4 linked regions of the Homo sapiens genome follow. The protein of the gene in region 3 purifies or fractionates together with the protein of the main gene of each other region. This does not show direct contact. Each region holds a gene or a part of one and is shown on either strand. Other genes may lie near its edges.

Region 1 (7,675 bases), on a different chromosome or scaffold from region 3:
TGGGTAAGCCTCTTTCACGATCTGAAACCAAAACAAAAGCTTTGAATCATCTGCCTGCAGTCAGCTCCACAGCCAATCTTTTAATCCATATCCAACTTTCATTTCTTCCCTGCACATTCTTAACCCATCTGCCTTGCTGTACAGCCAATGGGGGCTCAGATATTTGGAAACAATATATAGTCTAATATATAGACTAGGAAATCAACTCTGTTTTTACAAAAGTCTTAAAAACATGCTCTAAAAACAAATGGCAAAGGTTATTACTGGTACCACTGTTTTTTTCCCCTCTGCACAGTTAATAATTTTATCCTGATAAGCTTGGAGGAGCTATCATCAGGCCTGTTTTCGAGTGAGATCAAGACTTAGAGGTGGAGTGAAGTCTGTGCTAGTCGGACCTGAATGAAGGCCTGCTTTGAGTTATCAGATAGGAAGGGGCCAGGGCAGTTTTTCCCTATTCCTGTAAAAGGGGGATGGGGTGGGGGGGAGTGTACTTTTTTGTTGCCTAATTAAGGTATATCCCTTTATATCTACTTAAGTTAGTCTCCCTGGAGGAAAAGGGATTCACACCAAAACCTGCCCAACTAACCTTCATGAGTCCTGCGATGCCTGGCTCTTTGCAGTTGCTATGGTAGAAGAAGGCTTCTTCTCCCAGCTTCATGGCTCTAAGGAAGTTCCGAGCCTGTCCCGGGAGAAGAAAGAGTAACTATCCTCCCACCAGCTGGAAAGTACTAGCTTTTAGCAGAAATCAAGTCTGCTTTTAATAGATGGGTGATTCTTGTCTGCAACTCCTCAATTCATTAGAAAGTCCTTCCCCTTTGCCAGGACACCCAGACTTTTACCAGGACATTGGCCAGAACACAGGCCAATTGAAAATTTCATGCAGAGTACTTAAGGCATTTTTTAATACATTATCAGGTTTGCTTCTGAGAAAAAGCAACCTTGGCCAAGAGGTTCTGCTACTGAGTACGTCATGAGGAGGAGGCAGGCATTCATCCCACCTGGGTCTCAGGCGACCTCCTCCTTACCCTCTTACCTGGTAGTTACGAACACCATCCCAGCATGTTGTCTGTTTGGGCTGTGCTTTGAGATCCTCAATGCTGAACTAGGCAAGAGGAAATAAATTCAATCATTAAACAATCCTTGGCCAGTTAGTAAGCACATATGGAAGCAGACAGTTCCTTCCCCTAAAATGAGAGGGGCCACTGGCTATAGAGGAAGTATGTAGTTCACCGGGAAGTGGCTCCACAGAGACACTTTTGCTGGGTGAATGTAAGTAAGCCTTGTGTTACCTTGTTATCCTTGCTAATTATGAGGATTAGCTGAATGAATAATCTAGGTGATAAAGTAATCTGCTAGTTACTTGCATTTTACTTTATATTTATAATAGTTCTGCTTATATTTTTCCCAGGCTATATTAAATTCCCTGAAATATACATCAACTGTTGGCAGGGAGACACCTAGGAGCATGGCAGGTGTTCAGAGAAAGGTAACCTAAGATTGAGGTTGGCAGACTATAGCCTTCAGGACAAATCTAACCCCATGCTGGATTTTGTGAATAAAGTTGAACTTGAACACAGCCACAGCTGTTTACTTATTATCTGTGGCCACTCTCTTGCTACAAGGGCAGGGTTGCAACAGAGACTGTAACACGCACAAGCCTACAAAATTTACTATCTGGCCCTTTGTGGCAAAGGTTAGCCAACCCCTGCCCTAGATACACAGGTTCACAAACCAGCTGATGATAATAAACCCTGCCGATTTTATTCATTTTTACCTTTTTCCTTCCCTTCAAAGATAAGAAGCTGGGGATGGAACCCTATGGTGTCCCATATTCACTTCTCATTTAAAAAACACCATGAAGGGACTGGAGACAGGTCAAGGGTCTCACCTTCACATCTACACCTTTCTCTAGGCGGCTCTCTGGCTCTGACTTCATCAGCCAGTGGCTGCTTAGATTCTTCAAACAGTTTTTAGTGGCTGAAGTCTTCTGAGGGTTGGAGTCCTCCACTTTAGCTAATGCCTCACCTGAGTTCTCAGTTTTGGTGCGTTTTCCTGATAGTCCCTTGTCTGCAATAGGAGAAGCAAAAAGAAAAGATCATGCTTGTTAAAGGCAATGTTTCATAATGGAAAAAGCTTAGCTTTGGAGTCAGACCTGGATTCAAATCATGGATCCATTACCAGCTGTAGGAACTTAATCTTACTGTTAAGAAGCTTTCCTTATCTATAAAAATTAGACAAGAATACCTACCTTACAGGGTATCTTCTGGATTATCTATTCAATAGGGTAAGAACACCTTACAGGGTTGTTCAGGATTAAAGGTCCGGACAGTAGTCAATACATGTTTTCCTTTCCTCACTCTCTCTTCTATGCCTTTGCATAGGAAAGAGGAAACTGAGCACCTACTTGCAACTATTTTGAAGCTTAAATGAGGTAATACAAAGGGCCTAGACAATGCCTGGCATTACAATAAGTGCATAATAAAAGCATTATTATTCTCATCTCATACGTCTTTCCTTCTTGCTCACTGTGGCTCCTGGCCCATCTCCTTTCTGCTCCTTGAAGGTGCCAATAAAAGTTGAAAGAAACAGTTCATTCAGGACATTGTAGAAAAATGGTGATGATTCGATTTCATCCCAAGACAATCAGAATGTGCCTGGAACACAGTAGGCATTCAGTAGCTAAGTTGTTAAATTACTATATGACAGGGCCCAAGGTCTATGTGTTACCCTAACCCTAACTCGGTTAATCTACATAACCTGTGAGATGTTCTACTCTTCATCTGGGAAGCATGCTCCAGATCACACATCCAGTAATGGTGGAATCAAGATATGAGGTCAGCACCTGTCACTGAGGTCTATCTGAAGCTACTTAATGACTATACTGCCTCTGAATTTAGTCAAAGTCCCTACATCAATTGTCATTAAATACCATTTATGGCTGTCTAATGCTCTGAACCCAGCATACCTTCCTAACCTAGTTTCCTAATGGCCCCTTAGGAGTTAACAGGCCCACTGCAAACACCACATATTGATAAATAACTGCAATGTGCTGTAGTATATCTGGAACCCCTGTCATTCCCAAAAGAGGTACTTTCTGTACCTTCCAATGTTCCTCCTCCTCCATCCACTTAGAATGCCATCCATCTTTGTGATTATAAAAACGACATCACGTTTTCTTAGTACTAAACTTTGCCCGTGGAAAGTCTCCCATTCTTCAAGGCTGGGCTCAAATTCCACATCCTTCTCGAGGCCTTCCCCGTGATTCCTCCCTCCATAAACTTAACAATCCATTTTCCTGAACCCCATCACATCTGTTTGCAGTTCACCCGCAAGCAGGCGCTTTATATTCTTTAGCACGCCACCTGGTATCTCAAAGAGTCTTTGTGCACAACAACCATTGCCTGAATAAACAAGAAAAAGGAACTGTAGGTAGGAGCTTGGTGAGACAAGTAAAGAAGATGGAGAGTGATTAAGGATAATGGAGTAAAAATATCACAAAGGGTTCTCAAAAAGCAGGGAGTGAAAAATGAGTACTAAACAGGCTCTTCGAGAAAAGTTTTTTCTTGGGCTGCCTTTGTGCAGCCTAGGGGCAGCTCACCTGAACCAGAAGTCCCAGCCAGCCTCTTCCGGGGTCTCGACATGGTCACGCTGCAGGGGACTTTAGTGCGGACGATTCTGGAATCAACGGAGATACAAGAAAGAATGCTAATGTCCTCCAAAACCCGCGCAGAGCGAGATGGAGGCAACGAGAGGCAGCCTAGAACGTCTCCAACTTTTGCGAAACACAGACGCCTACGTTTGAGCCCTCAAATCCTTCCCTCCGTTATCTGCGCCATTTCCATCTCGCATAACCTGCCCCTAAACTCTTCTCGGTTCTGTCCTTGGTCCTTCTCATCCAGGAACCCCTATCTCAGTATGTAGTTCACTGGGAAGTGGCTCCACAGAGACACTTTTGTTGGGTGAATATAAGTAAGCCTTGTGTTACCTTGTTATCCTTGCTAATTAGGATCAACTGAATGGATAATCTAGATGATGAAGTAATTTGCTGGCTACAGACCCAACACTCTGCAGACTCGACTGCGGTCCGCCTCCGCTGCGCCGCAGGCTGTGCAGCGCGACCCCCGCGGCGCTTGGTGGGCGGTGCATCTCTGCGGCGCCGAGGCCCCGAGGACTTCTGGGAATTGTAGTCCTGTCCCCTTGGGAGCCCGCCTGGCACCTGGGTTGTTAGGGCTCGTGGGAGGACTACAACCCCCAGGGTGCAGTGGGACAGGCGTTGCCGGGTCGCAGGTCCCGCCAGTGCGAGCGCAACGGAGGTCGAAGGCGTTCAGACTCTTAGCTGAACGCGGAGCTGCGGCGGCTATGCTGTGGAGCGGCTGCCGGCGTTTCGGGGCGCGCCTCGGCTGCCTGCCCGGCGGTCTCCGGGTCCTCGTCCAGACCGGCCACCGGAGCTTGACCTCCTGCATCGACCGTAAGGATCTCCTGGCGGGCAGTAGGACAGGTGTCCAGAACCCCGGCGGACATATGTCCGCGAGGGGCTGCAGTCTCCCCGTTCCATCCAGTCACCCCGGCGTCAGCTCCCCTTCCGGCCAGTCACCCCCCCGGCCTGGCTCCCTACTCCGGCCGGTCACCCCCGGCCTGGCTGCCCCCTCCGGTCGGTCACCACCATCCGGGTCCCCATCTGGCCCGTCACCCCTGCCCGGGTCCTCCTCCGGCCGGTCACCCCCGCCCCGGTCCTCCTCCGGCCGGTCACCCCCGCCCCGGTCCTCCTCCGGCCGGTCACCCCCCGCAGGTTCCCCTCCGGCCGGTCATCCCCCCGCAGGTTCCCCTCCGGCCCGGGTCCTCCTGCGGCCGGTCACCCTCGGATGCTTAGAGAAGTGAAGAAACTTGGGGCTTGGTTGTTGTTGGGTTGGTTGGTTTTTAATCATAACAGTAGGTCATAAAAGCAGTGAGAATATAAGAAGCTGGCTGGGTGCTGATGGTGACAACTGCACAAGAACTCCAGGTCATACAAGATTTGCTCACACACAAAGATTTGGTATCTTAACACCTCTGGCTATAAGACACTTTTAGTGTTGAAACTCATGCAGGAAAAATAATTATTATTGCCAGTGGGAAACTCTACCAGAGCTGACAAACTTGAGTGTCTTTAGGCTCTGAACAGTAATTTGAATGTAGCGAGGAGTGGTGGAGACCCGGCCAGTTTGTGACTTCTCTGCCAAGAATGTTTATAAACACTTTTTTCTTCTGAAATATTTTTAAATTTATTTTAAATAAATGGCAGTTTTCTTTACAACAGAATAAGTCCCTTAGATATCAGATCTATAAAGTACAGTAAGGCATAGAATACTGTTTTCTTCTGAATGTCCTAAAACTCATTCAAGAGGTGCTGCCCTGGCCTAGCGCTTAGAATTTGATAACCCAGATTACCCTGGTTGATACCGAAGCAGATAAGGAATTATTTAGAGGTGGGTTTTGTTATTGTTTGCATCTTGCTTACACTTGAGTGGCTCTGCAGTCAAAGGCTTTTCCCATTTCATTTGGAGTGTTTTTCTATTTAGCTTTACCTTTTTAGTGTATATGTATTGGCATCTTGAGCTCTGCTAGTAACTATGTATTGGCATCTTGAACTCTGCTAGTAACTGGCAAAGTTCATGAGTGGTGGTATTTGTTTTGTTTTTATACTGTATTTCCTTCTGGGAACTTGTGTTTACTTATGCATATGATTTGCATAAAACTATTTCCTTCCATTAGAATGCAACTCAGATTTATTTCTTAAGCCTGTGGTTCCTTGAACTATTTGTTTTAGGAAGTAGCCATTTACAGAAGAAGAAGATTTGTTAACATTTAATGAGCTCTTGCTAGGATTGAAATAGTCATCCTTTGTGTGAATGGATCTTATTTATTTATTTTTTTGAGATGGAGTCTCTTTCTGTTGCCCAGGCTGGAGTACAGTGGTGCGATCTCAACTCACCGCAACCTCTGCCCCACGGGTTCAAGCAATTCTTGTGCCTCAGCCTCCCAAGTAGCTGGGATTACAGCACATGCCACCATGCCCAGCTAATTTTTATATTTTTAGTAGAGACGGGGTTTCACCATGTTGGACAAGCTGGACTTGAACTCCTGACCTCAAGTGATCCACCTGCCTTGGCCTCCCCAAAGTCTGGGATTACAGGCATGAGCCACTGCGCCTGGCTGGATCATATTTATTTTTGTAACCCCAGCACTGCTACCTAGTAAACACCCAATAAACATTCTTTTGGAAATGATCTTTGAGCCATGGTCTACAGTAACAGCAACCCTTGTACAAAATTGTGTGAATAAATGGCCTGACCCCAGTCAGAGAACCATGAATTGTTTATCCCTAACTCTGTTCCTGAGGGTAATACCCAACATAGGTTTCTGCTCTGAGTTTCTCAAGGCAGCCTAATCGTTAATCCTCAGAACTCTTCATTTCTGACTTTCCCATTTTAATGAGAGTACTGATCACAGAAAGCAGTGCCCTCTCCAGGCTCGCATAGCCAGCCATTACTGATGCCCAGATTTGCCCCAAGGAACAGACTCTGGCACCTGCCCTTGTGTTCTTCTGTGAGGACTGCATCGCTTGTAGGCACTGAAGTAAATTATTGCCAAGTGTGGCGCCATAGTCTTCCCATAGTGCTCTTTTTTCTTTTTTTCTTCTTTTGAAACAGAGTCTTGCTCTGTCACCCAGGCTAGAGTGCAATGGCACAATCTCAGCTCACTGCAACCTCTGCCTCCTGGGTTCAAGCGATTCTCCTGTCTCACCCTCCCAAAGTAGCTGGGATTACAGGCATGCGCCACCACACCCAGCTAATTTTTGTATTTTTAGTAGAGGCGGGGTTTTTCCATGTTGGTCAGGCTGGTCTTGAGCTCCTGACCTCAGGTGATCTGCCCGCCTCGGCCTCCTGAAGTGCTGGGATTATAGGCGTGAACCATCACGCCCAGCCCATAGTGCTCTTCAGTGTCAGTTATAATGACCAAAGTTCTAGCACTGTGGCCTCAACCTCTAGGTCTACAACTGCATTTTACTAAGTGCTAGGATAAGAGATGTCTGGAAGTCCCCTATCCTGTTCTAGGTTGATCTGGATGTGTGCTAGAACTGTCCTTTCTCCATATGACAAGTGGAATAACGACAGAAGCTGCCATTCTCTAGCTGTTAAAGGCTATACCGTGTATGGGAAATACTACAGTAGATCCACTTTCACAACTTCGTGGTGCTTCTTGTTGGCAACACCTTGTTGGCAACACTGACCCTGTCCTAGAACAGTATATGCAATCCTGCCCACAGCTTCCATGGGACTTAATGAAGAGCAGAAAGAATTTCAAAAAGTGGCCTTTGACTTTGCTGCCCGAGAGATGGCTCCAAATATGGCAGAGTGGGACCAGAAGGTAGGCGTTTTTCTTGTGCTTAGACGTTCTAACAACAGATGTCTCAGGCAGACCTTTATCTTTGTCTCCTGATAATGTAATTGTTAAATGTCTCCTCCACTTACCAACTCTTACTGCAAGTGAGAATACCGGTAGTGGATGATTTTTCCTAGAAGGCATCCTGATCATCTTGTACATAACTTTTTTTTTGTTAGTTGAATAAAGATTTGGATATAAAACTAAGGCAGTTCTATAGATAATAAAAAGAAACTTCTTAATGCCAGAACAA
Region 2 (7,430 bases), on a different chromosome or scaffold from region 3:
GATACAGAAAAAACAATTTGGGCTTTTTATATAGTCCTAAAGCCATTATATATATGCTACTTTAACTTCCAATGTCTAAGAGATGACTTAGTTTGAGATATGGATGTCTTAATCTGCCAGGATTTAAATAGTAGCAACTGGAATAACCCATAGACGGATAACATCTGTTATTAAGCTTACTTTTTCCCCCACCATCAGAAGATTTATTTTATTTCTAATTAAAAAACATACAGTTGGCAAACTCAGGTTTAAAACTAAGCATGCCAATAATAAATCAATCATTTCTCCAAGTACACAGTGTTTCCCTTGGGAAGGACTGTTATTTCACAACATTTTTTTCCCTCTGATTTAGAAAAAAAGATAACATTTAAAGTATTACAATGCCTAAACAGTGATACCAGTAATCCAGTTTTTATACTGATACTTGTATTTCAACATTTATTATCACCAAGACTAACTTAAAGCCAACTCCTTTAGTGAAGAGATTTCTTTCCCCATTTCAGTACTAGACGCAATAGTTCTGAATGTCACTGAGCAAGTAACGGATATGAGTTATTGATAAATTAATTACTAATGAAGAGTTTTTATACTACCTCCTTTATAATTAGCTAGTTCATAGACTTAAAACAAAACAATGAACAAAAACAAAACCCTATTTCTTACCCTCTAAATGGTCGCATTTCCCTTTCACTTACCTGAAAATATGAGAATAAAAATGACCATGTATTGAGTTACACCACTGAATCTGTTTGAATGGTTCTGTTTTTGTATTTTTTACTTATTTAATTTGAAAAAAATTAGAAAAGTATTAGTTTGAAATTAGAGCAGCTAACACACTGGGGGCAATAAATTAAAAACTTCAAATGGCTAAAAATGAAAACACAAAGTATCTTTCCTTCTAGATAAAAAAGATTGTTTTCTTCCTAGAAAGCAAAAAAAAAAAAAAAAAAAAAAAGGCAACTAATGATTTGAGAATAAAATCAAACATAACTGGTATTCACCACAGCAATGTCTAGATAAATGACCCACATAGCACAAAACTTTCTCATTCACAATCACATACAGTTAAGTTGCTTTTCCCTCAGTTACATAATAGTTGTCTTCAAACAATCTCCTTTTAGAAAACTATCACATTAGTTAAACCTATTTATTCTTACTATGAAGTTATTAACTTCATTTATATAGGCCACACAGGTTTAATTGGCACACTTTACTTAAGAATAAGACAAAATAAGTCACTCTTCTTTAAAAAAAATTATGGTCATCTGTTTTCAAAGAATAATCCCAGATACTTAATTAATTAAAGCAAATTTTCTACGATCAGCAGTGAGCTTTTTAAATGATCACTAAGTGTTCACCTGAAGATTATCAATGCTATATGAAGTGTAAACTTGAAAATTTGTGTCCATTTTATAATAAGATACAATTTGCACTGAAGAGTTTTTAAAAAGATAACCTACACACATACAGTTAATTTGCCTCAAACAACTTCTTAGAAATACAGTATAAACATTTAAGAACCACGACAAAGTTGTGGTTCAAACTTCAACAAAGATTTTCTTGAAACCCAGTATAAAGATTACTGGCTCAAGACCATATCCCAAAGTGAAATCAGCAGGAGATTTGATTGTAAGACTCTACCTTTTAAAAAAAGAGCACACTTGGTTATACATGGCTTTTAAACTTGAGCTACAGTTATGCTACAAATCCCCCCACCCTCCCAATCTAAAATCAGTCATGTGGAGATATGTACATTCTCTGAGCATTGTTTAGAGTCCTTGGTTTTCCAGCTTTGATGGAGATCTAGAAGGCGTTCAGAAGTCCGTGTGCTTACATTCAGAGCAGGATGAACTTTACAAATTCCACTTTCCTCCATTAGTGACAGGCCACAGATCCCAAAGTATGCATGCAAAGCATCTGAAAAGAAGGCATTTAAAACATCATAATAGGCATTCTTACTTGTACATTCTACAGAATATTTTAGCCACATATTTACCAGCCCATCACTCCATTAAAAGTAAGTTTAGAGAAATGCTAATATAGTTTTAAAAATATTTGCTTTCTCAAAGCCTCAAACACCAATTAAAAAAAAAACTCAGATGATCAAAATAAAATATTTTATTCATGAAAATATCATTAACAAAGGAAAACAGTTTCCAGCTGAAGAGCTGATACTGTCCATAACCTCTGTGATTAAAAGACAGGAGTAGCAGCAGTCATATGTAAGACTTCTCACTTTGGGGAGTTTCCCCTCTTGCTTACTAGAGAACATGAAAACGAGTAGCTTCAATGCTATATCATTAAGTTTTTTTTTCTTTAAAACGAAAACAAAACTCTGAATCTAAGTTGCAATATCCCTCGCTCCACGTTTTACCTCTGAAAGTTCCTAAACCATATGCAGTACTATCCTAACATTGTGTTAAATAAAAGGAGCTTATGCAAAAATAATCCATTCTGGAATGCTGTGCCATATTTAATCCTCCTATTTAGGGTAATGTCAGTCATTGTAAAAATATCTGATCTGACAATAAAAACAAACTCACATTCTATTTGGTTGAAATAATATGAGTGCTCATACCATGACAATTCTGCACTGGCTCACTAGTTTCCCATCTTTCAGGGGGCAGCGATCCTCTTCTATTAAAGTGGCCAATGAAATCACATGGCCATTCCTGCCTAGGAGTCTTATGTAGACTTCTGAAGAGCTCAGAGCTTTGCAGTTATAGGAACATTAAAAAGACAGTTTTGTACCAGTCAAAATTTTTTTCTATTTTTGAATTGGCCGACATTTATGGCCTTAAGAGCTATTAAAGTTCAAAACAGGCTGGGTGTGGTGGCTCACACCTGTAATCCCAGCACTTTGGGAGGCCGAGAAGGGCATATTCCTTGAGCCACAGGAGTTCGATACCAGCCTGGGCAATACGGTGAAGCTCCATCTCTACAAAAAATACAAAAATTACCAGGTATGGTGGCGTGCGCCTGTAGTTCCGGCTACTCGGGAGGCTGAGGTGGGAGGCTCACCTGAGCCTAGGGAGGTTGAGGCTGCAGTGAGGCATGATTATATCACTGCACTCTAGCCTGGGCAAAATAATGAAACCCTGTCTCAAAACAACAACAACAAAAAGTTCAACACATCTTACCACATCAAACTTTGTCAAAAGAGTTAAAGAAAAAGCTTTACTTACAACAGTATCACTTATTTTTCAAAACAGAAATGACAAATAGCTGTGCTTACTCAATGCCATTGTGAAAATGTTATTTAACTAATGGAGGCCCATGTTGATCACCTTTTAGGCCTTTTCAGAAAATACTTAGGTTTCTTCTGGCTCACTTTCCTTTGACTTTCAGACTATAAAAAATAAACTTGATTTCACCTGTCATATTACATCCATATAGTTATTCTAAAACTACAAAGGGTACAAAGCAACATTAAGCTTTGTTTTCTAGAAACTAGGAAACTTTTCTAGGAAAAAGTACAACAGAAAATATATATCTATAATAACATAAAATAGAACTGTGTAAAACTAAAATCTCTCTGGGTAAAGTAACAAATAAAACTTATTTGTTTCTCAAAAAGATTTTTGTAACAGCCAATGAGATCAGAACTCAATTGTTTGAAGCCTCAAATTGTGTTTTTAAAAAAACTCCTTATCTGTAAGTGGCAACGTACAAGCACTTTAGATGTGGAACTATATGTTTACTCCATAATAAAGCACTTTAGATGTTGAAATATATATTTACTCCACAATAAAAGGTTATTCTTTTGAAGTTTCTTTCATAAATGTATATAAAATCCCTTTGTATCAAATTTGCCACTAAATTCACTAGAATGAAGAATAAGCTTAATTTTAAAGAATCTTGTTAAAATGATTAAAGATTCTGGGACCAGATCTTTACACATAAATTCAATTTAGCAAAGCCCTTCTATGCTTTCTATTGCATACTCTGAAAACATTGTAATGTATCTGTAAAAAGTAAGTAGTACATCCAAATATTTACACAAATGTTAAAGTTAGCAACTGAACTCTCCGGAAAAAGCCTCAAGAACTTTCTTTTAAAAAAGCTATTGGAAACACTGAATGTATTTCAAGTATGTTTATACAAGAAATGTTTCCTAAGAGACTGTCATTTCCCTACTCCCATTATTTGTTAAAACAGTACCCTGCACTGGTTTAAAAAATGGAATGAAGACCAAAATAATTCTCAGTTTTGAGGCACTAGAGATATCAAAAATTTCAAGATATTATTTTGCTTGAGAAATTAACTTCTGAAGACACACTTTGGCTTACGACTTTGAAAGCAATGTACACTTTCTCTAAGAAGACATGTTTTACTACTGATTGATTGATTGAGACAGAGTCTCGCTCTGTCGCCCAGGCTGGAGTGCAATGGTGAGATCTTGGCTCACTGCAACCTCCACCTCCTGGGTTCAAGCAATTCTCCTGCCTCAGCCTCCTGAGTAGCTGGGACTACAGGTGTGCACCACCATGCCTGGCTATTTTTGTATTTTTGGTAGAGACGGGGTCTCGCCATATTGACCAGGCTGGTCTTCAACTCCTGACTTCAAGTGATTCACCAGCATCAGCCTCCCAAAGCTGGGATTACAGGCGTGAGCCACTGCACCCGGCCATTTATTTTATTTTATTTTTTGAGATGTACTCTTGCTCTGTTGCCCAGGCTGGAGTGCAGTGGTGTGACCTTGGCTCACTGCAACCTCTGCCTCCCAGGTTCAGGCAATTCTTCTGCCCCAGCCTCCCAAGTAGTTGGGATTACAGGCACCCACCACCACGCCTGGCTAATTATTGTATTTTTAGTAGAGGCAATGTTTCACCATGTGGCCAGGCTAGTCTCAAACTCCTTGCCTCAAGTGATCCGCCCACCTCAGCCTCCCAAACTGTTGGGATTACAGGCGTGAGCCAAAACTCCTGGCCTAGGAAGCATGTTTTATATGAAAATATAGGCAAGTAGGGGTGTAAGGAAATATTCCTGCTCATTTCAAATACAAAAATTGATTTCATGAGCTCCTTATTTATATTCTGATTCAATCACACATTCCAACCACAGCAGTTCTGTGATGGAAGATGAGTTGATGAGGCACTTTCCAGGCTGATAATAAAAACCACGACTCTATTGCAATACTGGCAAAAACAATCATTCCTTGTGTCTAGTTTCATATTTGTAACTAATTCTTTAACTACTTGCTTATCAAAAGTGTCAGTGTTTGAAATTATTTCAAAACACACTTAAATGGATTTTTATAGGGAAGCTGTATATAGACTCATTTTGCTGGAGGTGAAAACATATGTCGGGTGAGGTGTAGGCTGCAGAATGATGCTAGAGGTGGGAGAGGAGCCAAATTTTGGAAGGGCCTTGAGTGCCATGCCATTTATATTGTCTGAATCTGTTGAAATTTGGAGAACAAGAGTATGGGAAGTGAGAAACACATATATTCAGGATTTGAAATATTTTATTTAATGACTTTTTTTTTTGAGACAAAGAGTCTCGCTCTGTCACACAGGCTGGAGGGCAGTGGTGCAATCTCGGCTCACTGGAACCTCTGCTTCCTGGGTTTAAGTGACTCTCCTGCCTCAGACTCCCGCATAGCTGGGACTACAGGCACGCATCACCACACCTGGCTGATTTTTGTATTTTTAGTAGAGTCGGGGTTTCAACACGTTGGCCAGGCTGGTCTTGAACTCCTGACCTCAAGTGATCCACCTGCCTTGACCTCCCAAAGTGTTGGGGTTACAGGCATGAGCCACTGTGCCCGGCCTATTTAATGACTTCTGAAAAGAGTAAGAACTGATTCCCTTCAGGATTGGGAGTAATTTATTATACTTAGTTCAAGTCATGACTAATAATCCTAACGGCTTTGGATGGCCTAAATAATTCTCTTCTTTGGAAAGGACCCATTCAGACCATCTACATTATTGCTGCAAATGAAATAAAACATTACTAAGTAAAATATTTGGGAAAAAATGCACACTATTCCCATGCATCTTGATAATAAACTCTTTCATTTATACTCTCTAATACCCTAAATTTATCCTAAGCTTACACAATATACCTTTTAAAAAATATTATTTAATGTAACTTTGCAACTGGATATATTTTCTATCATATGCCTTTTCTGATAAAGATGCTTGAAGATCTATTCAGGAAATAAAGGTTGTTCTGATTCACAAAGAAAATAATTACCTGGATGACTGTCTGGCCACTTGGCAAATCCCCCTACAAGGCGATCTTGAGTTGATAAGATGTAATTTCTATTTTTCTCAAAGTTAGTGTATTGGAAAATTTTTAGAAGCTGAAATGACATGACAAATAAAAATTTACTGACATAAAACTCATATCAACCTTTGGCTCAAATTTCAGATACGTGTCATTTAGATATGCTTTTCTTTAGCTAAGGTGCTCAGACCAAGTCTCTGGGGCCTTGAGCACTTTTGAAATGAGTAAATCACATTAACTTTTTAATTTTCTTATCAAATCTACTCTCCTTTTCTCGACTCTCTATTTCCTTCTTCTGAACCAGGCCAACTGAACCCTTTAAATCACATTAAGCTAAATTCAAAAGACAACTCGAATCCACTCAACATAATCAGTCATTTTAAAAAGTACAATTTTATCTACCCATATTTTAACTCTTATGATAAGCTCTTGAGCTATTAGTTATAAACTAGTAGTAACTGGAATTAAAAATATTTTTTAAAAAAAGAGCAAACAAAAATTACTAACCAGATGCTACAGACAGTTTTGAAAATAGTAAAAAAGTATAGCTCTTTAATTAGGAAAGAAAAAGGTAAGACAAAAATGATTGCAACATAAAAAACTATATAGTTTTTAATGATTTAGGACATGTACTTGGCTTTTCTCTCAAGACCCCATAAAAGTAAAATACAAATAAATAAATAATACTGTGAAGTTCAAGATGAGGTGCACAGTAGGTAAGAGGGTTCAAGACATTTCTGATGATACAAAGCAATTTAATATATGTTAATGAACCAGAGAGAGCCACAGCTTTTAGTGACTAATGAAGAAGCATTATTTCTCAAAAAGAAAAGCTAAACTCATAAGAAAGTTATGGTACAAACAGGAAACAAATTTATTCATTTACATTGATTTAATTAATAAAATATAAGGAAAAAGACTTTTTTGAATCTTGATGTTAGGAATATTTTCCATCAGTGGCACACTGGTCATTACATAAAAATGAAAAAATTATAATAGTAACACTGCACTTGGCTTAGCAATAAACAATATTTTCACTATCCCATAATAAGTGTTGATTACTGGTTTTTAAATTTTAGAATCAACCTATAGGCAAAGGCTGAAAGATGTGATTATTAATATTGAACAAATATATGAATGTGTCCTAACTTAACATTATAAAAATAAAGGTAACCTTATATAGCATTGGAAGGTAGAAG
Region 3 (7,430 bases):
TATTACCTGTGGGCTGGGCTGCTGGCAGGCATGTGCACCTCACCCCTTCCAGGAACACAGCTAGGATCACAAGGGACAGTAGCGCTCTGTGGACTGTACTAGTTATTTGCTACTAATTGCACAACCCAAAGTTTACGGTCACCAGTGGTCACCATGAGGCCAGCATTTTCAGGTCCAGGTGATGGATCGGGAGGACTGAGAGGGATGGGGCAGACACAGCAGTGCAGCCCTGCAGAAGTAAGTGGGCAGAGCCATGCAGAGGGTCTAGCAAATGCCATCTTCTCGGATGCCTCCTTGCCCCTCCCCTCCCAGCAGGTGCCACGGGTGGCCCAGCTGAGCCTCACTGGGACCCAGAGGCTGGCTGGGTCTGGGACACTGTTGGAGTGGGTTCCCCCAATGCCCCGAGGGAGCAGTGACACAGACAAGCTCAGGGAACTATTTGCATAAGGGATTTTGTAAGCCTTGGGTAACGAGTAGGGCTGTGTTGGGGCCAGTGACAAGGGCCTTCTTTCCATTTGTTTTTCGTTTGTTTTATTCAGAATATAACAAGGATCTGAGCAGCACAAGCACTGAAGGAAACTCGATCGTCTGGTGTATCAAAGGCTTGCAGTGTTGGAGGAAGGGAGCGCCCTGGTGGAATGCACCAGCCTGAATGGCTGTGTTGAGGCTACAGTGAGGCCCAGGCTTCCCGTGGACCTCACCCGCACATGTGGGGTTAGAACATGAGCCTGTGTGCAGACTGGGGCTCCCTTGGAGTCTTCTAGACATAGCTGGGAGGGGTTATAAGGGAAGCCAAGGTCCTGTAATTCTGCACGGGGGGCACCTGAGACAGCAAGATGAGGGTATTAGTGGTAAACTCCTCAGCTGGGGAAGCCCATGAACCAGGAGCTTGACCCCAGGCGTCGGATAGAAACTTTCTGTACGTGCAACCAGGGATGATGTACTGGAGCACATGGGGGAACAGAGGGAAGCAGCCCCAAGCCCGGGCTCCAGGAGGAAGCCTACCTCATCCCCCATGTGGGGCTGGAACTCGAACTTGAGTGGAGGGCAGAAGACTTGATTGCACATGTCCATGACTGTGTGCTTGTCACTTCGGGAATCCAGGTTGTCCACTGCATTCTCAATGACATCCAGCCCTTCGTGGCGAGAGGTCTCCAGGTTGTATTCAGCTGAGAGATAGGTCCGGAAGGTGCGGGCCAGGCTGGCATGGAAGCCCAAATCACAGCACTTGGGGAGAGGCAACAACGGAAGGTTATGGGTGACAGCCAGGATGTGGAGGGGCGGTCACTGGCCACCACAGTGACTTACAATTACCTCCCTTTCCACAGCCGAATCTTCCATCCCGGAGGCCCCAAGGCACTTTGGAATCCTACTGCACAAACCTCACGGCGCCCCTCAAGGGGAGTTGCGGTTGAGATTTGGGCAATAGCAGAACTAGGTTCCCTATATTCACCATCTTTCTCTCTCTCTTTTTTTTTTTTTTTTTTTTTTTGAGACGGAGTCTAGCTCTGTCACTTAGGCTGGAGTGCAGTGGCACGATCTCGGCTCACTGCTACCTCCGCCTCCCGGGTTCAATCGATTCTCCTGCCTCAGCCTCCCGAGTAGCTGAGATTACAGGTGCCCACCACCAAGCCCAGCTAATTTTTGTATTTTTAACAGAGACAGGGATTTACTGTGTTGGCCAGACTGGTCTCGAACTCGTGACATTGTGATCTACCCGCCTCGGCCTCCCAAAGTGCTCAGATTACAAGCGTGAGCCCATCTTTCTCTTCTTTAGGGTGGTGTGCATGCATCCCCTCTGCCTGGAATACCCTTCTTTCGGAATTCAGTTTAGAGGTCACTTCCTCCAGGAAAGCTTCCTTGATGTTCTCCCCACTCAGAGCTGGTCAGGTGATCCTCCTCCAGGGGTCCACATTTCCCTCTACCTCTCTCACTGTGACCCCTGCCACTTAGTATTAAAATCACCTATCAACATGTCCTTGGCGAGGTAAGCTCCCCGAGGGCCAACCCACTGCTCCTGCTCCTCAAGTTCCAGACAACAGCAGGTGCTCAATTAATATATGGTAAATGAATGAATAAAGGGGCTGAAAGGGCAAAAAAAGAAAGCGAAAAGCAGGAAAGAGGAAGGTCTGGCCTTGGGCCATTTGGGAGCTCCCTCTCCTTGCGATGCTGACAATGGGGCCCCCTCTGGAGCCACGGGAAAAGCAGGAGCCCCCTGACTTCCCGACAGGATACACCAGGAAAAGAGTCCATCGACCATACCAAGCCTTTACTAAACATGGACAGGGCCAGCTCCCCCATCGGTGCAGGAAGGAGGACATGAGAGAAACAGTCCTGGCTCCTACTTAGATGACACAGAAGCCCTCCCCAGCACCACCGCTCACAGTGTTCTTTCTCCCAGTCTGCTTGTCCCTGTGGCGTGTCCTGCACAGCGGGTACTCGGGAGTCAGTGTTCCGTTCTCCATTTGCTTAAGCTGCCCGATTTCTCCCGAGATAACTTCCCCACACAAAGCTGATCTGTATAATTAAGTCTGTCTCATTCGCTACTTTCTTTCGCATGTACACGTGTCTGGCTGAGTGGCCCTAGGGGCGCCAAACATTTTACTAATAACATCTCCTTTACCACACTGGGAAATCCCCCAAGGCATGAACTGTGTATGGTTCCCCCCTGAACCCCTCAAACCCAGCAAAGGACCTGGTGTCCAGGAGGGTACTTGGGAAGTTGCCATTGGATATACAACTGCCCAAGCCAACTGCACTGGGGCCACCAGAGGCCCATGTCCCACTCGTGAAAATAGACACCACGAGGTAACATTCATTTTCCACCTCCCCAAATCACTGCCCTTCCCCTCCAGCAGGGCTCAAAAGAGCTGTGGCTACCCGAGAATGTCAGGTAAAGACAAAGACCAGCCCCTCCTTCAGCCAGTGACATGTGCCAGCCCTGGTGTGGGCCCTGCTCAGTCCCAGACTCCCCAGGGAGCTCACATCGATCAGATCAGAGACATCATGGATGTAGTATTTGCTTATAGCTGCGTTGGTGGCTGCCAGATTGAGCAAGTAGTCATTCCGGGCCTTTGTGCATTTCAGCTTGTTCTCAGAGTACTTGGCCTGCCTCTGGAAGAAGAAAAGAGTAGATGTAAGAGCAAGCCATTTAAGAGGACGGGGTTTGTGATTTTCTATTCCTTTTTTTTTTTTTTTTGAGACAGGGTGTTGCTCTGTCACCCAGGTGAGAGTGCAGTGGTGTGATCATAGCTCACTTCAGCCTTAACTCCTGGACTCAAGCAATCCTCCCACCTCAGCCTCCCGAGTAGCTGGGACTATAGATGCATGCCATCACACCTGGCTAGTTTTTGTTTTTGTTTTTCAAGTTTTTTAGAGATGGTGGGGTCTCACTATGTTGCCCAGGCTGATCTGGAACTCCTGGCCTCAAGCCATCCTCCCACCTTAGCCTCCCAAGTGTTGGGATTATAGGCGTGAGCCACCATGCCCGGCCCAGTGGTTTTTTTTTTCTTTATAGTAGCTGCCTGCCACCCAAGCCCTGCACAGCCACACCTATGGAAGACCTCCATCTGCTAGATGAGTAAGGGCTGGACCTGGACTCAGGCAGCTCCCCTTACACCTGCACCTTGCACCTGCACAGCCGATGAGGACACTAGATGAGCAGCAGCCTCTGACGGTCCTTGCTAGGGTGGGGTGTAAATAAGATCCCTGGCCAGGAGCGTTGGCCTGTAATCCCAACACTTTGGGAGGCTGAGGCAGGCATATCACCTGAGGTTAGGAGAGCAAGACCAGCCTGGCCAACAGGGCAAAACCCCATCTCTACTAAAAATACAAAAATTAGCTGGGTGTGGTGGCATGCACCTATAGTCCCAGCTACTTGGAAGGCTGAGATGGGAGAATCATTTGAACCCAGGAGGCAGAGGTTGCAGTAAGCAGAGATTGCACCACTGCACTCCAGGTCTAGGTGACAGAGGGAGACTCCGTCTCAATCAATCAATCAATAAGACCCCTACCCAGCACCCTCCAGTGATGTCTCAAACTGCTGCTCGCACCTGAGAAGCCCTCCATGGCCTTGTCCCATCCACTTCTCAAGCTCCACCTTCCCCCAGGCTCCCCCTCATTTGCTCAGCCTCCTTGGTCCATCCTTTAAGAGGCAAAATTCATTCCTGTCTCAAGGCCCTCAAACTCATGGTTCCCTCAGCCTTGGCCCAAGGTCTCAAGGCCAGATTGGCTTTCGATGACAAGCTCATCTACCTCTCCCACTCCCTCTGCCCACCCCTGCCCGGCTCTTTTCTTAATAAGCACTTCCACCACCTGAAACTGTATTTTTTTCTACCCTTTTATTTACTTGTTGATTGTCAGTGATCTCCCATTAGAAAATAAGTGGGGTTAGGGACTTGATCTGCTTTGTTCATTGCTAGGTCTGGAGCGCCCAGAACTGTCCCTGCACAAGGTCATTTTCAGTCATTTTCAGTGACTGGAGGACAGGAGGGAGGGAGGATGACTGGATGGGAGAGGTGGGGTGGGGCAGCCAGAGCCGCCCATCTCAGCAGGGACCCAATTGCCCCCCAGGGAGCTGCTCCTGGCTAAGCCAGCCTGGGAATGGAGCAGGAAAGAGGAAGTGGGCTGGAGAGCTGTCCCCTGCTCCTTTCAGACTGATGAGTCCCATTGCTGTGTAAAAAGTCAGGTCTCTGTAAATAAATGGTTTTTCTCCTTTGCCTAGACATTCTTACACCTTCCTATTCCACAGTGAGTTCTCATCCTTTTAATTCTCTTCAGAGATCTCTAACTTTTCCCCAGGGTCCTGGCAGTTACATCCTACGCCAGCCATGCACCTGACCCCCCACAGAGAGTTTTGATATTCTTGGCCTATTTCCAGTGGACAACTATGACCATGACCCTGAGACCATTTTTTAGCCCTTCATAGACTCATAAAATGTTATACCTAGAAAGGATGTTAAAGGTATTTTCATTAAACTCATCTATTTTATAGATGAGGAAATGAGAACTGGAGAGAAGTGGCTTGCCCAAGAGCCAAGTAGCTAATCGAACCAAAAATACAACTCTGAACTAAAAATCGGCCTCTGGACTTCCAGTCAGCACTCACTCTACCTCTCTCCTTCTCCCTATGTTGTAGTCCTATCATTCCCTGCTTGGTTATTTTATTTTATTTTTATTTATTTTTACTGTATTCACAGAGTCACACAACCATCATCATTATCTAACTTTAGAATATTTTCATCACCCCAGAAAGAAATGCTGCACCCATTCACAGTCACTCCCCATTTTCCTCTTCTTTAGCCCCTGGAAACCAATCATCTATTTTCTATTTCCATAGATTTGTCTATGCTGGACATTTCATAAATGTAGTTGCACAATATGTGGTCTTCCGTGACTGACTTCTTTCATTTAGCATACTGTTTTCAAGGTTCATCCATGTTGCAGCATTTGTCAGTACTTCATTCCTTTTCATGGCTGAATAATATTCCATCACATGGATATACCACATTTTATTCAACCATCCATCAGCAGATGAACATCTGAGTCATTTCCATCTTTTGGCTATTAAGAATAATGCTGCTATTCATGTACAAGTCTTTGAATGGACATATGTTTTTATTTTTCTTGGGTGGATACCTAGGAATAAAATTGTTGAGTCACATGGTAACTTAGTCTATGTTTAACATTTAGACTGCTTTCCAAAGTGATAGAATCACTGTACATTCCCTTTAGTAGTGTGTGAAGATTCCAATTTATCCACATTCTCACCAATACTTCCTATAGTCTGCCTTTTTAATTCTAGCTATCCCTGTGGGTATGAAGTGATAGTTCACTGAGTTTGATTTGCATTTCTTTAATCACTAATAATAGAGACAATCTTTTTTTTTTTTTTTTTTTTTTTTTTGAGACAGGGTCTTACTCTGTTGCCCAGGCTGGAGTGCAGTGATGTGATCATGGCTCACTGCAGCCTTGACCTCCCTCAGGTAATCCTCCTACCTCAGCCTCCCAAGTGGCTGGGACTACAGGCACATGCCACCACACCTGCCTAATTTTTCTATTTTTTGTAGAGATAGGGTTCTGCCATGTTGCCCAACCTGGTCTCGAACTCCTGGGCTCAAACTATCTGACCACCTTGGCCTCCCAAAGTGTTAGGATTACAGGTGTGAACCACCATGCCTGGCCCAGACAATCTTTTCATGTACTTATTGGCCACTCATACATGTTTTTTTAAGAGCAACATCTATTCAAATTCTTTGCCTTTTTTTTTTCATAAATAGAGATGGAATTTTGCCATTTTACCCAGGCTGGTCTCGAACTCCTGGGCTCAAACGATCCTCCCGCCTTGGCCTCCCAAAGTGCTGATATTACAGGCATGAGCCACTGTGGCCAGCCCTACAGCACTGTTTTTAACTAAATCTGTTTCGAGTTTCACAATTCTCAGCCCAGTGCTCTGGGCAATTGATCAGAGTTGACATGAGAGATGAGACGAATTTGCCACTCCTATCAGATTTGAAAACTGCAGCTCAGAGAGGTGTTGTAAACGTGGCATTTTCAAAACCCAGCTCATTTGACTCCAAAGCTAGAATTCCTCCCACCACACCCTACTAAAGGACTTTTCCAGAATCAATACACAGGGATTCTAACTCTCTCATCTTTGAATTGGCAATGGCAATTTTGGAATGAGCCCTTCACCAGCTTTCCAGGTGCTGGTCCCTCTTGTTGAGACACATTCAGCAATCAGTTCCCACCTCACCCCCCGCCCCTACCCTTGGCCATCAAATTGGCCTCTGGAACAAGCCCCTGCTCCCGCTAATGCCTTGTGATTCCAGCTCATCTGAGAAGGTGCTTGCTGGGTGTGAATCTCGTCACAGTTCAGCTTTCTTGTGAGTTGAGCACCTCGTCTGCCTGCTGACCTTAGCACTAAGCCAGGCCTAACCAGTGTTAGCACGGGCATGCCTGGCTCCGCTTCCACTAGGACACCGATCTCCAAAAGAGGAGATGCTGGCTACATTGTCCCATCCCCCCTACCCACCACCACCCCACTGGGATGCAGGGGAATAAGGGGGAAGGCTAAGGCTGTCCGCCAAGACCATGGCCCTCCCCTTTGTGCCCTGTCCCCAATCGCTCCCAGCCCAGGGCCCCCACTCACCTTCTCCTTCATCTTCTCAATCTTCTTCACAGAGCTGCGGCGCTGGGGCCGGTCCTCGTGCCGGAGCAGGTTCATGCTGAGGTCTCCTGACTTATTGAACTGCTTCTCCTCCTGCTTCTCAGCCTCCTTCAGCTTGCTTTCCGCACTGATGCTCTCTGCATGGTACATGTGGTAGGTTTTCATGACCTGGGGGTGCACAAGTAGGGGAAATCAGCAGCCAGCTATGGCCCAGCACGGCCCTCCCTGTTACTCCTGGCTCCATACCAAGTTCTACACTCTA
Region 4 (7,430 bases), on a different chromosome or scaffold from region 3:
TAGAAGAAAACATAGGGGAAAAGCTTCATGACATTGGATTTAGCAATAGTTAGCAGCTGGAATTAGCAATAATTTCTTGGATATGATACCAAAAGTACAGGCAACAAAAGAACAGATAAACAGATAAACTGGACTGTATCAAATTAAAAATCTTGTGAATCAAAGGGCACTATCAACAGAGTAAAAAGGTAACTGTCCCATCCCACAGATGGGAGAAAATATCTGCATATCATCCTTCTGATAAGGGATTAGTAACCAGAATGTCTAAGAGCTCCTTCAACTCAACAACAATCAACCCAATTAAAAAAATGGGCAAAGGTCAAACTTGAACAAACACTTCTCCAAAGAAGATACACAAATGGCTAATAAGCACATGAAAAGGTGCTCCACATCACTAATCATTAGGGAAATACAAATCAAAACCACAACAAGAGGCTACTTTATACCCATCAGGATGGCTATTATAAAAAACAAACAACAATAGAAAATGACCAGTGTTGGCAAGCAAGTAGAGAAACCTTGTGCAGTGCTGGTGGGAATGTAAAAATGGTGCAGCCACTATGGAAAACAGTATGCAGTTCCTCAAAAAATTCACTATAGGATTACTATATGAAGGAATTCCACTTCTGCTTATATAACCCCCCAAAATGAAAGCAGGGACTCAAAGAGATATTTGTACACCCATAATCATAAGCAGCATTATTCACAGGAGCCAAAAAGTGGAAGTAACCCAAGACTCCATTGACAGACGGAATGAATAAGCAAAACATAGTAGAGTAGAATATTACTTAGCCTTAAAAAGGAAAGAAATTCTGACAATTGCTGTAACATGGATGAACCCTGAGAACATTATCCTAAGTAAAATAAGCCATTCACAAAAGGACAAATACTGTATGATTCCATTTATATGAGGTACTTAGACTAGTCCAATTTACAGGGACAGAAAGTAGAATGGTGGTTGGGGAGAGAAGAATGGGGACTTGTATAATGGGTATGGAGTTTCTGTTTGGGAAGATGAAAAAAGTTCTGGAAATGGTTAGGGGAGATGGTAACAATCGTACTCAGTGACAATGAACTGTATATTTTAAAACGGTTAACATGGTAACTTTTATGTCATTTGTATTTTTCCACAATAAAAATTTTTTTTAATCTATAAAAAAAAACCTTTTTCTTTTTATAAAATTACTAGGTACTAGGGGTGTCAGATATATGTGGCACATGATTCATCTGCTACACTGGCACACAGTTCATGAATAAACAAAGCTATTATAATGTATTTTTTAAACTCTAGGTTTATAGAAGAAATTTACACAAAATTGTAGCTTACAAATTTAATTCAAAACCAAATGACATTCTAACAGTGAATAAAAACTCCTCTCAATTTATAAATTCATCAACGCAGCATAGCGTCCTCTGTGCTAGAATTCATTAATTTTTCCCTCTTTCCCTGCTTCCTTTTGCTTTTTGAAATGAAAGAACAATAACCCCAAAAAAATGATGCTTCTTTGTGGAACAATATTATTTCCATTTGCCTTTTCTGTGAGATGAAGTTTATAACATTGGTCATTACAGTGAGATATGACACTAACATAGATGTGGCATGACATAACTGTATTTACAAACTGTTTATGTAACAATATTACACTTAGTACAGATCTTGACAATAAAATACTCTATTTTATACACTACACAACCAAATACTTTAATGCAAAACAAAAAAGAATTAAAATTGTCCATATTAAGAAAGTCCAAAGAAATAAGTAATATTTACAAAGTACACTTAGTCACAGAAGTACTAAGTGCTGATTTCTCCATAATCTTAAATTAATACCTGAATTAGCCCATGGCTCACTGGTAAATGTGATAAGAATATTTTCTTTAATCTGCTTTCGTGTAACTCACACTTCTGCAGCTTTGTATACTCTGGGCTCCCTCTGCCCAGAATGCCTCCCTAGACTCCATGCCACACCCACATCCAAAGCCAAGCTCAAGTCTTGAAGAGTCAGGGCAAGTATCTCTGCCTTGGTGAAGCTTTCCTGACCACACCTTTATTCACCTGCTTGCCTCAACCCATGAAACTGCTTACAAAAACAAAACAAAACAAAACACAACACAACAAAAAACTGCTCACTTCCTCCTTTCTAAAGACCTCTGAAGTATTCATCACCCCAAACAATACCGATTTATCTTTCTATTGCTTTTACTAGTTTGGTCTTTCCCTTGGGGAAGGAACGATGCCATACTCATCTAGGTAGGCCTTCAAATGTTTGCTAAGATGTGGTTTCTGTCCCCCTCAAAAGATAGATGTTCAGGGAAACTCAACTTAAAACCACAATTAAATATCACCTTACCCAGCCAGACTGGCCATTACTAAAAAGTCAAAAAACAATAATGTTGGCACAGATGTGGTGAAAACACTTACACACTGCTGGTGGGAACGTGAGATTTCTCAAAGAACTAAAAGTAGATCTACCATTTGATCCAGCAATCCCACTACTGGGTATCTACCCAAAGGAAAAGAAGTCACTGTATCAAAAAGACACCTGCATACATATGGCTATCGCAGTACAGTTCACAATTCCAAAGATATGGAATCAACCTAAGTGCCCATCAACCAATGAGTGGAGAAAGAAAATGTGGTATGTATACACCATGGCCTACTACTCAGCCATAAAAAAAGAAAAAATAATGCATTTTGCAGCAACTTGGATGGAGCTGGAGGCCATTATTCTAAGTGAAGTAACTCAGGAATGGAAAACCAAACACCATATATTCTCACTTGTAAGTGGGAGCTAAGCTATGGGTACAGCAAAGGCATACAGAGTGATATAATAGACTTTGGAGGAGGATGGTGGGGGTGAGGGATAAAAAACTACATATTGGATAGAATGTGCACTACTCAGGTGATCAGTGCACTAAAATAAGTTATAGATGGTTGTTTTTCCAGAGCAGTCCACAAAACCTTCCTGTAATATATGCTTAAGCACTCAAGCACTGAAATGAAGACACCAAGGTCTGTGTTCAGAGTTCCCTTCCTCATCACCTTAACTAGCTATAGATCCCTTGGCTAATTACTGAAAACTCACTTTTTTCTTATCTGGGAAATAAAAGGAGGCCCTCACATACATTTTCTTTTAATAAATGACTATTTGAGATAATATATTTTGAGCATTTAACAAACTTAAAAAAGGTAAGCTACCCTAACCACTGTTACTACATGGAAATTCTCTAGCATCTATATTGAAAAGACAAAAGCTTCACAGTGACACAGAGCCTGTCATAAACCTTTTCTAACAGTGTGCTGCAGAATTTGTATTCTATAATATTTTGTAGCATATTTTTGGACAAGAAAAAAAATTTGTTGTTACCCTTTAATTATGAAGTCTTTAAACAATGAATACATTCAGTGTTTTTATTTCAAATTTAAGAACATTGGCTGCAGTGAGCATCTCATTAAAATCACATTAAAAAATTTGATTAAGAAATCAAATTATTGTTTTCTAATCAATCGGTTTACAATTTTAAAAATAACAAATGAAATATGACAACTACCTTATCTGCCTGTCCTGAGTGAATGTAGTTACTGCAGCACTCTGGGTGCTGTTTTGTGGCATACTAGATGGAATCTGGACCATGCTTCCGGCTGCAGGCTGAGAAATCACCATAGTGTTATACAGTGGGGCTGTAAGAGTGCTCTGTGTCTGACTGGGTAGAGATGTTTGCTGACTGTGCCCACTCAGTACATTTTGTTGACTCTGTTAAAAATAAAGAGATTTTATAGACAGATTAACTGAAAATAATTATTTGGGAAGTATGCTAGAATTCATCATTCTAACAATATGACAATATGACAGAGAAAGAAGTGGCAGGATATATTACTCTGGGGGAAATATAACCACAAAGGAATGACTCGTGGTAACTGAGAATGAATTAGTCTTGAATATCTTGCTGGAAGGCAAGCTATGACTTTAGAAAGGAGTGTGATTGTAATAGAGATGATATAAAATATACTCAAAGAATTTCTGTTAAATGCCCAAAGTGAATGACTAATTAGTGGGCATTTTTCTATTTTTCATTTAAATCCTTGGGATTTACAGTCACAGATCTACAGTAATTACCAACATTTTCTGGAATATTCAATAAACCATTATGCCCCCTCCCCCAACAGTCTATTCTGCACATATGGGAACAGGCTTCCTGGTCAGCCTCTTGAGCAAGTCATACCTTTTAAACACAGAAATAGTCTAAGTTACAAGAACTTGGTATAACTACTAGACTACATCTTTAAACAGATTGTGACATATTTTAAAGCTCAGCCAGGCGCAGTGGCTCACACCTGTAATCCCAGCACTTTGGGAGGCTGAGGTGGGCGATCACCTGAGGTCAGGAGTTTGAGATCAGCCAGGCCAACATGGTGAAACCCCATCTCTACTAAAAATATGAAAATCAGCCTGGCATGGTGGTGGGTGCCTATAATCCCAGCTACTCGGGAGGTTGGGGCAGGAGAATCGCTTCAACCCAGGAGGCGGAGGTTGCAGTAATCTAAGGTCACGCCATTGCACTCCAGCCTGGGCAACAGGAGCAAAACTCCGTCTCAAAAAAAAAAAAAGAAAAAAAAAAGCTGAAAATATTTGATACTAACATGATTTGCACAAAATATTTTAATAATCACTCTCAATACTATACTTTCTAAATACTATTAAATTTTGAAATGATATTTTATCATTAGAGCTTTATTTCTGCTTCAGCAATAGTGTGCCTTCCAACCACTGATCACTCCATAGCCCGCTGTGCTCAGTAACATTACCTGAGTTGATGTACTCTGTAAAGTCTGTTGTTGTATCATGTGCTGAGTTGTGCCAATGTGTCCAGTATTCATTCCACTTTGAATCTGGTTAGTAGGAACAACTTGGCCTTGCATATTTATAGGTGCAAGTTGCTGGATATTAGATGAATTTCCAGAAGAAAGTTGAACGGAACCAAAATTCAACCCAGGATTTGATTGTTGCAAAAACATCTTTAAAAATAAAGATTATGTTAAAATGAGCTTTGTAGATTGAAAAGAAGAATGAGCATTAAAAAGAAGGCAAAATCAAGCTACAAAGTATGTTTAAAAAGCAAGTAACAAGGCTAAGTCACTTTGAAGAATTAGCAATAAATAAGTAGTGAATAAAATATGAAACTTTATATTCAATCTTTCAGTTATCTTGTTTCCAATTGTTAGAAAAAGTGTAACTAGTGTTAGTCTGTGGATTGACAGCTCTGTATCACTTATCATTTATAATTTATAACATCACACAGAAGTAGTTTTCACTCCAAGTTTCCCTTTACCAAAGTCATAGTCTCCTAGAGTGGTCCTGCTGGTTGGTCATATAAGACTAATTTGAATCATACATACTGGTATCTTAATAAAAATATTACTGATGATTGATTTATAAATTCTGTACCCAAGATGTACCTAAAACTTTATGTAAAATATAATTTTTATATTATGGATTCAAACTTACTAAAATTTGGACTGGTAAAAAAAGATGACTGGAGAAACAAGGATGTTGACAGAAATACCCTCAGAAACAAATTATCTTTAGAGACTGTAAGTATAATCATACTGAGTAGGTAACCAGTGAATATTTATTGAACTGAATTGATAAAACGTATCTCTTGCATCTCACTTTTAATTAAGAAAAGTTAATTTTCCTAGAAATCCAAAATGTGAATGGGATGCTTTGTTTGTATTCAAATATAACAATTACCTGCAGCCCCTGACCATGGACCATCTGAAGTTGTTCTTGAATTTTTCTTAGTTCTTCTTGTTGCCGATGAATATTTGCTTCTATCATGCGTGTCCGTTGTTCCAATTGGTCTTTCAGATGTTGCATGGCTCCTAATTGAGCTGAAAACTGAAACTGAAGTACCATGTACGGAAAAAGTGTAATATATTTTAGAATTACTTACTCCTTATAATTGCACAACATGAAAAGTAAGCAGTATAACATGAGTGAAGGATGATAACATCCTTCACTAGTTATGTCCCTTAGTTTCTAATCCACCCATCTTTGCTCTGCTTTGTAATATTGGACCTGGACCTTCAAAATATTTCTCCTTTGCCAGCAGGCACAAAGTTATCCACATCAGTAGGTGGTGCTGGAGGGACACTGCCAAGAAAGTGCTCAACTCCTGGTTCTGGTGCTTCTTGCTCTTATGTCAGGGTGCCAACGGGAAGCTTTTAATATTTTCTCAACCACGTTTAACATATGATATGGTCTGGTTATTGTTAATTTCTGAAATCAAAGTTGTGTGCCCTGAAATGTAATTTAGTATCCCAAATACAAACTATTGAAGATAGAGTTAAAAAGCTTTGGATGGGAAGGACATTTCTCACTTTTACATACACCTGCCCCGGCAGGTGGCTTTCCAGCAAGTCTCAATGACATCCTAGTGGGCAGCTTCCCTGCAAGCTTTACCAGTACCCCAGCTGATGGCTTCCAGCTCTCTACCTCTAATCTGTGGCATGTCAGTGAACTTCTCTATTATCCAGTTGCTATAGCCACATTTGCCCCAAGAAGATCTGCATCTTAGCCTGGCATGGGGGAAGAGGAGGTTAGGAGCTTGTGGGGAGTCTTCTAAGTATGTTCCTTCCTTGGGTACTCTCCATCTACCTTACAGCTAGTGGTTGCTCTCTGCATCTGCTATTTCTATATTCTTTTTTTTTTTTTTTTTTTTTTTTTTGAGACAGGATCTCACTCTGTCACCCAGGCTGGAAAGCAGTGGTGCGATCATGGCTCTCTACAGCCTTAACTTTCTGGGTTCAAGAGCTCCTCCCATCTCAGCCTCCCCAGTGGCTGGGACTACAGGCATGCACCACCACACCTGGCTAACATAAAAATGTATTTTCTTGTAAAAATAGGGTCTTGCTATGTTGCCCATGCTGGTCTTGAACTCATTGGCTCAAGAAGTCCTCCTACTTCGGCCTTCCAAAGTGCTAAGAATACAGGCATGAGCCACCACACCCAGCTTTATTCCTATATTCTTTAGGTTCTCTTTACTTCTTTTAGGAGTTAATCCGTGTTACCAGTTAATAATTTTTTATATTATTCCTGTTCAAATTTCTGGTATGCTTCTGGCTTCTGACTGGATACTTGACTGATTACACATACACCCTGGATTTACAAGACCTGAGCTCATATTGTGGCTACCACTTACTGGAAAAAAATTTAACTTCTTTTTTTTTTTTTTTTTTTTGAGACAGAGTCACCCAAGCTGGAATGCAGTGGTGTGATCACAGCTTATTGCAGCCTCAACCACCCAGGCTCAAGCAATCCTCCCACTTCAGCCTCTCAAGTGGCTGGGACTACAGGCATATGCCACCATGCCCGGCTAATGTTTTTTTTAAGAGATGGGGTCTCACTATGTTGCCTAGTCTGTTGTAG

The links.
Region 1: the proteins of SRGAP3 (region 3) and ACAD8 purify together in Homo sapiens (affinity purification with mass spectrometry; 3 studies listed by BioGRID and IntAct, with this or other methods). This does not show direct contact.
Region 2: the proteins of SRGAP3 (region 3) and PGGT1B purify together in Homo sapiens (affinity purification with mass spectrometry; 3 studies listed by BioGRID and IntAct, with this or other methods). This does not show direct contact.
Region 4: the proteins of SRGAP3 (region 3) and CLOCK purify together in Homo sapiens (affinity purification with mass spectrometry; 3 studies listed by BioGRID and IntAct, with this or other methods). This does not show direct contact.

Annotation. Positions count from the first base shown.
Region 1 is NC_000011.10:134,249,242-134,256,916, forward strand, and holds the start of ACAD8 (isobutyryl-CoA dehydrogenase, mitochondrial), read left to right. Parts: upstream 1-4,326; 5' UTR 4,327-4,359; coding exon 4,360-4,468; intron 4,469-7,306; coding exon 7,307-7,407; intron 7,408-7,675. Other genes in the region: THYN1 (thymocyte nuclear protein 1), read right to left, coding at 1-21, 587-679, 1,034-1,102, 1,889-2,067, 3,599-3,641.
Region 2 is NC_000005.10:115,210,667-115,218,096, forward strand, and holds part of PGGT1B (geranylgeranyl transferase type-1 subunit beta), read right to left. Parts: intron 6,308-7,430; coding exon 6,199-6,307; intron 1,918-6,198; coding exon 1,736-1,917; 3' UTR 1,642-1,735; coding exon of another isoform or gene 1,612-1,641; 3' UTR 1-1,611. UniProt on the Homo sapiens protein: Catalyzes the transfer of a geranyl-geranyl moiety from geranyl-geranyl pyrophosphate to a cysteine at the fourth position from the C-terminus of proteins having the C-terminal sequence Cys-aliphatic-aliphatic-X.
Region 3 is NC_000003.12:9,057,246-9,064,675, forward strand, and holds part of SRGAP3 (SLIT-ROBO Rho GTPase-activating protein 3), read right to left. Parts: intron 7,337-7,430; coding exon 7,151-7,336; intron 3,115-7,150; coding exon 2,986-3,114; intron 1,228-2,985; coding exon 1,006-1,227; intron 1-1,005. UniProt on the Homo sapiens protein: GTPase-activating protein for RAC1 and perhaps Cdc42, but not for RhoA small GTPase. May attenuate RAC1 signaling in neurons.
Region 4 is NC_000004.12:55,438,880-55,446,309, forward strand, and holds part of CLOCK (circadian locomoter output cycles protein kaput), read right to left. Parts: intron 5,907-7,430; coding exon 5,754-5,906; intron 5,018-5,753; coding exon 4,808-5,017; intron 3,756-4,807; coding exon 3,553-3,755; intron 1-3,552. UniProt on the Homo sapiens protein: Transcriptional activator which forms a core component of the circadian clock.